Linked DNA regions of Homo sapiens. The protein of the gene in region 2 purifies or fractionates together with the protein of the main gene of each other region. This does not show direct contact. Each region holds a gene or a part of one and is shown on either strand. Other genes may lie near its edges.

The links.
Region 1: the proteins of SLC25A51 (region 2) and HTR1E purify together in Homo sapiens (co-immunoprecipitation; one large-scale study listed by IntAct). This does not show direct contact.
Region 3: the proteins of SLC25A51 (region 2) and VSIG1 purify together in Homo sapiens (co-immunoprecipitation; one large-scale study listed by IntAct). This does not show direct contact.

What each region holds. Positions count from the first base shown.
Region 1 is NC_000006.12:86,943,984-86,947,639, forward strand, and holds part of HTR1E (5-hydroxytryptamine receptor 1E), read left to right. Parts: intron 1-3,656. UniProt on the Homo sapiens protein: G-protein coupled receptor for 5-hydroxytryptamine (serotonin). Also functions as a receptor for various alkaloids and psychoactive substances.
Region 2 is NC_000009.12:37,887,032-37,890,687, forward strand, and holds the end of SLC25A51 (mitochondrial nicotinamide adenine dinucleotide transporter SLC25A51), read right to left. Parts: intron 1,562-3,656; 5' UTR 1,520-1,561; coding exon 626-1,519; 3' UTR 573-625; downstream 1-572. UniProt on the Homo sapiens protein: Mitochondrial membrane carrier protein that mediates the import of NAD(+) into mitochondria. Mitochondrial NAD(+) is required for glycolysis and mitochondrial respiration.
Region 3 is NC_000023.11:108,047,909-108,051,564, reverse strand, and holds part of VSIG1 (V-set and immunoglobulin domain-containing protein 1 isoform 2 precursor), read right to left. Parts: intron 1-3,656.

The DNA.
Region 1 (3,656 bases), on a different chromosome or scaffold from region 2:
GGGGAAAGGTAACGCTTCCAAGCTCGCTCACGTGGCTGTTGACAAGCCTCAGGTCCCAGCTGGCTGCTGGCTGGAGACGTTCTTTTGCTACCACATGGACCTCTCTATAGGGCTACTAACAAAACAGAGTGCTTCATGCAGATGTTGCAGCTTGCTGTCCTTGGAGCAAGGGCTAAGATTGAAAGATAGCAAAATAGAAGCCAAGGTCTTTTTGTAACCTGATATCAGAAGTGATATCCCATGGCTTCTGCTGTGTTCCTCATTAGAGACAAGTCACTAGTTTCAGCCTAATTCAAGGGGAAGGGATTACACAGTGGGAGGAATACCTACAGGAACCAAATCATTGAGAGCCACCTGAGATACTGCCTGCCACAATATAAGACATCAGAAGCTGTTTGATAAAGACTCAATTCAGTATCACCTCGTGGTTTTATCTCATAGTAATGTTCTCAGACTGAAATTAGATAATCTGTCAAAGAATTTGTAAAATATAAAGCTCTATACAATATCAAGATTTTATTAGTTTTATTAATGCTGAGAATCCAGTTCCACTTTATAGATAGTGATATAAGAACAGCAAATCAATGATTAAGAGATGTGAATTTTACACCTTGCTGTGTGTGTGACCTTGGAAAAGCCATTTATTTGTTTCATACCTTAGTTCTCTCATGAAAGTGATGATAATAACAGACTTACCAGGATAAAATAGATAATAGACAGCCATGCAGCACATTGACAATATTTTGGTCACCCACAAACCACATATATGACAGTGGTCCCACAAATTATAATGGAGCTGAAAAATTCCTACAGCCTAGTGACATCATCGCTATTGCAATGTTGTTGTAGCACAATGTATCGCTCATGTGCTTGTGATGAGGCTGGTGTAAGCAAACCTGTGCTGCCAGTTGTATAAAAGTATAGCACATACAATTATGTATAGTATATAATACTTGATAATAAACAACTGTTACTGGTTTATACATTTACTGTACTATACTTTTTATCATTATTTTGGGGTGTGTTCCTACTTAATTAAAAAAAAAAAGTGAAAAGAAGTTTAACTGTAAAACAGCCTCAGGCAGGTCCTTCAGAAGGTATCCCAGAAAACAGCATTGTTATTACAGGAGATGACAGCTCCATGCATGTTATTGCCCCGAAGGACCTTCCAACGGACAGGATGTGTAAATAGATACAGTGATACTGATAATCCTGAGCCTGTGTAGGCTAAGGCTAATGTGTCTGTATCTTAGTTTTGTTTGTTTGTTTGTTTGTTTGTTTGAGACAGAGTCTCAGTCGCCCAGGCTGGAGTGCAGCAGCACAATCTCACCTCATTGCAACCTCCGCCTCCCAGGTTCAAGCAATTCTCCCACCTCAGCTTCCTAGTAGCTGGGATTACAGGCACTCACCACCATGCCCAGCTAATTTTTTGAATTTTTAGTAGAGACGGGATTTCACCATATTGGCCATGCTGGTCTTGAACCCCCGACCTCAAATGATTCGCCCGCCTCAGCCTCCCAAAGTGCTGGGATTACAGGCGTGAGTATCTTAGTTTTTAACAAAAAAGTGTGAAAAGGAAAGAAAAAATTTAAAGTTTTAAAAATAGAAAAAAGTTTATAAAATAATGTTATAAATAATGAGAATATTTTTGTATAGCTATACAATGTGTTTTAAGCTAAGTGCTATTACAAAAAGAGTCAAAAAGGTTTTTTTAATTTAAAAGTTTGGGGGTTTTTTGTTTTGTTTTTGTTTTTGTTTTTGTTTTTTTGAGATGACGTTTCTTTCTTGCCTCCCAGACTGGAGTGCAGTGGCGTGGTGATCCCAGTTCACTGCAACGTCCGCCTCCCCAGTTTCAAGCAATTCTCCTGCCTCAGCCTCCCAAGTAACTGGGATTACAGGCATGTGCCACCATGCCCAGCTAAATTTTGTATTTTTAGTAGAGATGGGGATTCACTATGTTGGCCAGGCTGGTCTCAATCTCCTGACCTCAGGTGGTTTACCTGCCTCGGCCTCCCAAAGTGCTGGTATTACAGGCATGAGCCACCACACCCGGCCTAATTAAAAAGTTTATAAAGTAAAAAAGTTATAGTAAGATAAGGTTAACTTATTATTGGAGAGAGAAAAAATGGTTTTTACAAATTAGGTATAGCTTAAGTGTACAGTGTTTTTAAAGTCTACAGTAGTGTACAGTAATGTACTAGGCCTTCATATTCGCTCAACACTGACTCACTGACTCACCCAGAGCAGCTTCTAATCCTGCAAACTCCATTCATGATAAGTTCCCTACACAAGTATCCCATTTTTTATCTTTATACCATATTTTCACTGTACCCTTTCTACGTTTAGATACACAAATACTATTGTGTTACATTTGCCTACAGTATTCAATACAGTAACATGCTGTCTGGCTTTGTAGCCTAGAAGCAATAGGCTATGCCACATAGCCTAGGTGTGCAGTAGGCTACACCATCTAGGTTTGTGGAAGTACACATCTTGATGTTCACACAATGATGAAATGGCCTAACAATGCATTTCTCAGAATGTATGATGCATGGCTATATATAAAATTATGCTGAAATCTAAAAAAATGAGATGATGGTCATAATGACAATGATGAAGATGACTATATGTTTCAGCTTCTACTCCATGGTCCTTTGAGGACAACTGAAGTAACTAGATATGATTTTTGTCAGTTGTGTTTTAAGTGTATGTATCAAATCCAGCTACCCCAAGTTTTACAATAACTTTATATGGTTTAATCTTATCTTGCTGAACACATTAGATATGCTGCCCTGAAAAGTGGCTTGCAAACAGAATTTTTAGAAACTGAACCATAATTAAAATGCACAGAGGCCGGGCACGGTGGCTCACACCTGTAATCCCAGTACTTTGGGAAGCCAAGACAGGCGGATCACCTGAGGTCAGGAGTTTGAGACCAGCCTGACCAACATGAAGAAACCCTGTCTCTACTAAAAATACAAAATTAGCCATGCGTGGTGGCACATGGCTGTAATCCCAGCTACTCAGGAAGCTGAGGCAGGAGAATCGCTTGAACCCAGGAGGCGGAGGTTGTGGTGAGCCGAGATCGCGCCATTGCACTCCAGCCTGGGCAACAAGAGCGAAACTCTGTCTCAAAAAAAAAATGCACAGAGAAGGTTTCCATGTATCTAGTGGAATTGTACAATGCTTATGTGATCTTGTGATATCATTAATATTTTGTAATATAAATAATTATCCTCATTATTTTAATTTTCTGGCATTGTAGCAACACCTGTATAAATATTTATAGTTACTTAAGAACTCACAAAACAACCTTTTGAAGTAGGCAAATAAAACCAACTCTTGGTTATCTCAAAGAGTTCTTTTTGTTTGATTCTTGTGTTATCTACATTTCTTCTCTCACTGTAAATTGGCATAAATTTGGCAGATACAAAACAAGTAAAGTTCAAACTCCTCCACTCAACCACTTTAAGGGATTTTTTTTCCTGCTTATAAGTATATCACATGTTCATTGTAGAAAATTTGGAAATGCAGAAAAGTATAAAAAATGTAGTTAAAGTTACTCTTATTGCCACCACCAAGAGGCAGCCACTATTGATACTTTGATGAATTTCTGCCTTAGTGCTTTCCCTCTCTATAGGGAGAAAAGAGTGGTT
Region 2 (3,656 bases):
CGTAGCCGGGCACAGTGGCTCACGCCTATAATCCCAGCACTTTGGGAGGCCGAGGCGGGTGGATCACGAGGTCAGGGGTTCGAGACCAGCCTGACCAACATGGTGAAACCCCGTCTCTACTAAAAATACAAAACAATTAGCTGGGCGTGGTGGCGGGCGCCTGTAATCCCAGCTACTTAGGAGGCTAAGGCAGGAGAATTGCTTGAACCCTGGAGGCGGAGGTTGCAGTGAGCCAAGATCGTGCCACTGCACTCCAGCCTGGGCAACAGAGCAAGACTCTGCCTCAAAAAAAAAAAAAAAAGTATAAGCCTAACTTTGTCACTAGTCCTAAGGAGAAACTTTTAACCACAAAGTTTTTATCATTGAAGACAATATTGAACAACCCCCTATTTTGTGAGGATTGAGAAGGGGTGAATAGAGGCTTGAGACTTTCCTTTGTGTGGTAGGACTTGGAGGAGAAATCCCCTGGACTTTCACTAACCCTCTGACCTACTCCCCACACCCAGTTGATGGCTTTCCATAATAAGATTGGGATTTCCTTTAAAAAAAAAAAAAAAAGAGGCCAAACTGCATTCTTCTTAGAAGGTCTATTCAGTTGATAAATGGCACTTAACTGATGGTTTTTTCATATAACCTTTAACAAGAACTCATAAGTTGCATTGATTATGCCCCAAGAGATGAGGGACCGATGGTAATTCAGATGGGCACCTCTGAAAAGATTTATCAGTTTTCTGTCCCGTTCCAGCCAGATTTTTTGGAAAACCTTGGGGAAAGACTGAAATTCCCCACCAATCTGAGACTGTATGCGAGTTTTTACAACATTAATTGGAAAAAACAAGAATCCCAACATGGCACCCAATAGACCTCCACAGATAAAATCATTGACCAGATGAGCACTGTGAGTCGTTGCGGTAGGCAGATGCTCCTTAATGGGACCTCGAAGGCCGAAAAACAAGACATTGCTGAGTCCATTCCGGAAAAGAATGGGCACCAAGCCTCGATAATACTCTCCAATTCCATGACATTTCAGTGCCTTGAAAGCCTGGTAAGTGTTGGTAAATTTGTCATGATGCTTGTGGTCTTGAAGCAATGTCTGAACTCTTTCCAGTGGAGTGAAAATTGCTTCTGTTGTCCCTGCAAGCACTGCCGCCACGCCACTGGTTGCAAACTCTGGAGCACTGACATGCTTGTGGAGAAGGCAGGATAAATCCTCATACAGACCAAACATAAGTGCAAGCGTAGTTGTCTTCTGCATCAATGGGGGAAGGATTCCACGATACAAATTTCGAAATCCATCCCTTCTCAACTGAAGTATTGCATCCCGGGTTTTGATGCCATACAGCTGTTGTCGAAAGAGGACCTTCTGAATGGGAAATGTGATTGCGACATTGTTGAAGGCTGCACAGCAGCCACACAAGTAATGCTTCATCTCACCAACATTTGTAATATGAGGTGATATATCTTGTTTTGAAGATGTTAGTATTGGTGGCCTCTTTTCATGAGCTTCTGAATCCATCATGCTGCTTAAGATCTTTCTTTTTCATGAAGGACTTTTTTTAACCTACAAATAATAAATGACAACGGGTAAACCCGTTTTATAGAGAGCTAAACACATGGGCTTTCTCCCTAATCCATCCTCTAATATCTGGACACCACACTTTCCTTTTCAGACTAGATCAGTGATTCTTAAAGCATTTTCAGAAGACCCCTGGAAGTCCCTGAGATCCTTTTGGGAGTCCAGGAGATTTTCCTTTTTCAAACTACATATCTATGTGAGGCTTGATTTTTTGCATATACTTTAATCAAAATGACTTATCACAACAGACTGAATGCAGCAAACAGGAAACTCCATCTTAAGTCAGACATGCAAAAGGCTTAGAAAACTGTAAAATATTTTCTAATGACTGTAAAATCATTAGAAAAAAATGGGAGGCATGAATGTTATTTTTCATGAAAATGTGTTAACATGTAATGTGTTTATCATTACCTTAAAATTCATATTTTAATTTTAAATTCCTAAAGACCCTGAATATCAGTCCACATAAACAAAGGGTGTTTGGGGCCCACAATCATTTTTAAGACTGTAAAGGAGTCCTAACACCAAAAACTTTCAGAGCCACTAGACTAGTTCGTAATTACTGACTACACTATATACGGTATCTATCTATTGTCCTGCTGAAATAGGCCCACATTCCTCCCCTGAGAAATAAAACAGCAAGACATGCACTCATTCTATTCATATTTATACTTCTTTGGTACCTACTATGAACTAGGTCCTCTGCTAAGTTGCTAGAGATTCAAAGATAAGGAATTCACAAACTAATAGAATGTGCCAAGGTGAACAATTACACCAATGTGACAGCTTCTATGATAACCAACCATTGTGGGAACACAGGTAAGGGACACTGAACATGCACCTTGGAAGGTGGAGGTGTGGGATGATGGGGGCAAGGAAGGCCTACAGGTATGTACCATGCACTCTATTTTCATGTATGAATTCTCAAAACAACTCCACAATTATTTTTCCAGTTTTACAAATGAATAAAACCAGTATTCTCTTTTGTTCTGTTCAGGGCACAGCTAGTAACTGGTGGGGTCAGCATTCTGAAATGAAGTCTGAGTGATTCCAGGGCTCATATCCCTGCTACCATATCACAGATGGCAATGACTTTGTGAGGCTGCCCTGGGATAAGAGGTGGCTATACTAGATACTGCTGAAAATGATTGGAACTAAGCCAAAGTTCCACCCCTATAATACACCTCCTTCTGTAAAATGCATGATCTTTCCTTGCCAGTCATCTAAATCTGATTCCTTCTCCCTGAAAAAATCCAGATCCAAATAGCTGGGTCATACAGAATAATTCCCACCTTCCAGTTCTGGTCTTGGAAATCACCTTTATTTGGGGGATAACATGATAACTGTATATTGTATCTTAGATATAATAGAAATATATAGAAACTTCTATATATTAGAAATATATATAAATATATACACACATATGTGTATGTGTGTGTGTATATGAGGCTAAATATTTTTTAATTGGATTTTAATTCCTTAACAGTAAGATACTGGCCAGGCATGGTGGCTTATGCCTGTAATCCCAGCACTTTGGGAGGCTGGGGCAGGAGGATTGCTTGAATCACGAGTTTGAGACCAGTGTGGGCAACATAGAGAGATCCCATGCCTATGAAAAAGTTAAAAATTAGCTGGGCATGGTAGCACATGCCTGTAGCCCCAGCTATGTGGGATGCTGAGGTGGGAGGATCAATTGAGCCAGGGAGGTCAAGGCTGCAGTGAGCCATGATTGCACCACTGCACTCCAGCCTGGGCAACAGAGCAAGACTCTTGTTTCTAAAAATAATAACAATAATTTAAAAATTAAAAATAGTAGTCAGGCGCAGTGGCTCACACTTGTCATCCCAGCACTTTGGAAGACCAAGGTGGGAGGATTGCATGAGGCCACAAATTTGTGCCCAGCCTGGGCAACATAGTGAGACTCTGCCTCTACAAAAATCAAAATAAATTTTTGGGGCATGATGGCGTACACCAGCTACTGGGAAGGTGGAGGGAGAAGGACCTCTTGAGCCCAGGAAGTTCAGGCTGCAGTGAGCTGTGTTCATGTCACTGCGTTCCAGCCTGGGTGACAGAGTAATAC
Region 3 (3,656 bases), on a different chromosome or scaffold from region 2:
AGGAAACTCATATTTACATTTTTTATTTTTGCAGTCAGTCACATTATTTATGCTTCACATGCAAGCAGGTGTTGGCTTACTTTTGTGGTCTGTTGTTCTAACAGCAGTTTAATTTTCAGTATTGTTTTGCTCTGTTTGGTTTATCGGATATCACTGAGGCTGACATTTGTCCCAGATCATATCGCCTGAAGGAGCAGAAAGGTTTCCCTAGGTCAGGCTTCCAGGTGCCTCTCAGTTGGGGTAGGTATGGTGGGACACTTCTACTGGCGCCCTGCACTGTTGGTGTCTCTATGGGTAGGAGAGGACAGTCATACACCCACTGAGACAGAGCCTTCCCAGACTGGGCCGCTTGCCATCACTTTATGCCTCGTGTCTGTTCTACCCTCCCACCTCGATATCTCTAGGTGAAAGTGGGACATCTCAGGCCTGGGGAGAAGGCAAATGCTTCTTTTGTCCACTGTTGTTGGTGGGGTTTCTGAAGATCCCCCCTTACCTGTGGTGTTGGGCCTACCTGATGTTGTCAGAGGGACTCTGAGGGAGGAGTAAGCTTACCTGGGCTGCCCTCTGTTGTTCAGTTGGGTATCAGGAATGGCCAGGACTAGGTTTCTTTCTTCTGCTGGGTGGGAAACATAGGATACCCTTGCTCTTTGTTTTTCCCTGGGTCTCAAACCAGTTTGCCTTCTCCTTACAACCTTCCAGAGTTCTACCCTGGTTGTCTCTTGCATTATTTCCAGGGTTTATACTTGTGCTTAGCAGGGAGGAACAATGAAAAACAGGTCTGTACTACATGTCCAGACCAGAAATCTCCCTCAGTTTTTAAGAGTGTAAAATTGTCCTGAGACCACAAATTTTGAGAACTGTTGGCCTTACAGAAAGATGAAGTAATTAAGCTCCCCATAGGATTTGGAGGCCCACCGAAGGGCACCCTACCCAAATCCAGCCTGCCACTACACTAAAATTCTCAGTTCTATATGAGCACTTTCCAAAGGGCTATTTTAGGTGATGGCACTTTGGGGAGCACTATACAGTCACTGTCTTATCTTATTAACTGGTTGCTATGCATTGCATTGTCGAAGACTATAAAAGTTCTCCAGGATGGGTCACGGGATTGGCAGGCAAGCACTGGAAGAGAAAGTCAAGTTCAAGAGACGCTCTCTATGCTGTCCTAGTTGCCTGCAGGGTAACAGAGGGTGTTGGAGGGTTGAGGGTGAAGGGATGAGGATACAGAAATTATGAAAGATTCAGAGGAAATTGCATAGAGGGACTAATTCCTGTCCATCTTCCCAATTTTGCATACCCAAAGACTTATTTATTTCATATTTTTCTTACTTAATGACAGCAGTCAGACAAAAAGAACTTAAAGGATTGACAAACACTTTTAAAAAGTAAAAGAAAAAAAATCGTTGTACTGATTACTCTTGGTTTCATGGATTCAATATCTGTGTTCTCTGTCACAGCCAGGTCACCTGGTCCAGCTGCTTTCCTGCCAGAAGCTGGCTGTTTACATGGCAACCAATGCACTGATAAATTAAGAAAAGTGCCTGAATGCAAACAAAAATGCAGCACTTTTTAACTCCATACAGTTTCCCTCTTCCCAATATTCTCCTCCCCATGCTTTCCTGGTTTCCATAATGCCTCCTCCAAAAAGGAAATTGGCTTTCAGAAAGCAGCTAATCTTTCCAACAAAAACTTCACTGGAGAAAGATGGTTCCCTCCCACCCTCAAAGAGCCCATTTCATTTCTCCTGGAAGTTAGCCACATCTCTGGCCGTGCTTAAATGATGACTTCCAAATGTCTTTAAAGTGTCCAAAATAAAAAGGATAAAACTGGGGTTTTGGTAGCCCTTAAAGTTCCCAGACTTATTCCCTAAAAACAGAGATTTTAGAGATATTATTTGGCCATAATTTTTGTTCTCTAGTTTGGGACCCAGTATCTGTTACGAGATTGGTTAAGGGTGAGAATTTATGAACAGATAAGGCAAAACAATAAACAAAACCCCACAAACCCCCTTTGAAGACCACTCTTGGAAAAAGTGTTTGATGGCAGAGTACACACAGTACTCACACAAGTCAAGCCATGGAAGAGGCTGTGGAGCCTAGCAACAAATATCAATTGAGCACCCATTTTGTGCCACAAACAGTGCTGAACACTGGGGAAACAAGAATGAACATGACAGACACAATCTCTGCCATCCCTCAGTGCAGCAGGAAGCCATTTATAGCACAGATGAGAATAGAGGTGAATGAAAATCAAGGATTTGGAAAATATAAATCTGATTCAAACATTTCTAACATTTTAAATATAGAAGATATATAAATGTGTAACTAATTAGAAATCTGCAAAAGTTTAATAATATCACCTTGGAATTAGGATGGTAATTTCAAATTTTAAAGTGAGACAATATTTTTTGAGGTACTACACATTGTCATGTAAATAAGTAACAGTTGGCAAAGCAAAACCTCCAGGCCATTTTATTGCCCAGATTCCCAATTCTTAGCACCATAACCAATTAAATTCTGAAGAAAAGATGTTTTTCAGACATTGTCCAACCATGATATAGTGATGATATGCTTCAGAGCTAAAAGTTATATATTTCCAGATGAGCCTTTTTAAAATGTCACATCATTCAATTAGTGCACATTACTTAAAACCTCTGAGCTCACCCTTACAGTGCTGTCCAACAGAACTTCCTGTGATGATGGAAATGTTCTATCTCTGCGCCATCCAGTTCAGTAGCCCAAATAGAATTATCAAACACTTGAAATGTGGCTAGTGAAACTGAGGAACTGACTTTATAATTTTCATTAATCTGAAGTGATTTAAATTTCAATAGCCACATGTAGACAATGGGCAGTGCAAACTTAGTCCTAAAGTGGAGGTGATTCTCTGAGTGTCAGGGAAAAAAGTTCCCTTCCTTTGGATTAAGTCATTCTAAGTTGAGAAATTATTTAAAAATTGAATAAGTCAGAAAAATCTCTACATCAATAGGACTGTGAATAAATAGCAAAGTAAAGATTAGTATCTGATTTAAACAAAACCCAAGAACGCAATGTCCCTCTCTGACTTGACCAAATTTAAAAACAAAACAAAAATGCATATGTGGTTGAAATATGTGTAATCTCTTTTAAAAACCAGTGCTTACCTGCACGTTGTGCACATGTATCCTAAAACTTAAAGTATAATAATAATTAAAAAAGTGCTTATTATTAAAGAAAAATAATCCAAGATGTACACACTTAATCAACATTTAAAAATATTTTTAGGCTGGGCGCAGTGGCTCACGCCTGTAATCCCAACACTTTGGGAGGCTGAGGTGGGCGGGTCGCCTGAGGTTGGGAGTTCAAGACCAGCCTGACCAACATGGAGAAACCCTGTCTCTACCAAAAATACAAAATTAGCCGGGCGTGGTGGTGCATGCCTGTAATCCCAGCTACTCAGGAGGCTGAGGCAGTAGAATCACTTGAACCCGGAAGGCGGAAGTTGCGGTGGGCCGAGATCGTGCCATTGCACTCCAGCCTGGGCAACAAGACTTAACTTCGTCTCAAAAGAATATATATATGTGTATATATATATATATATATATATATATATATATATATATATGTGTGTGTATATATATATATATATGTGTATATATATATATGTGTATATATATA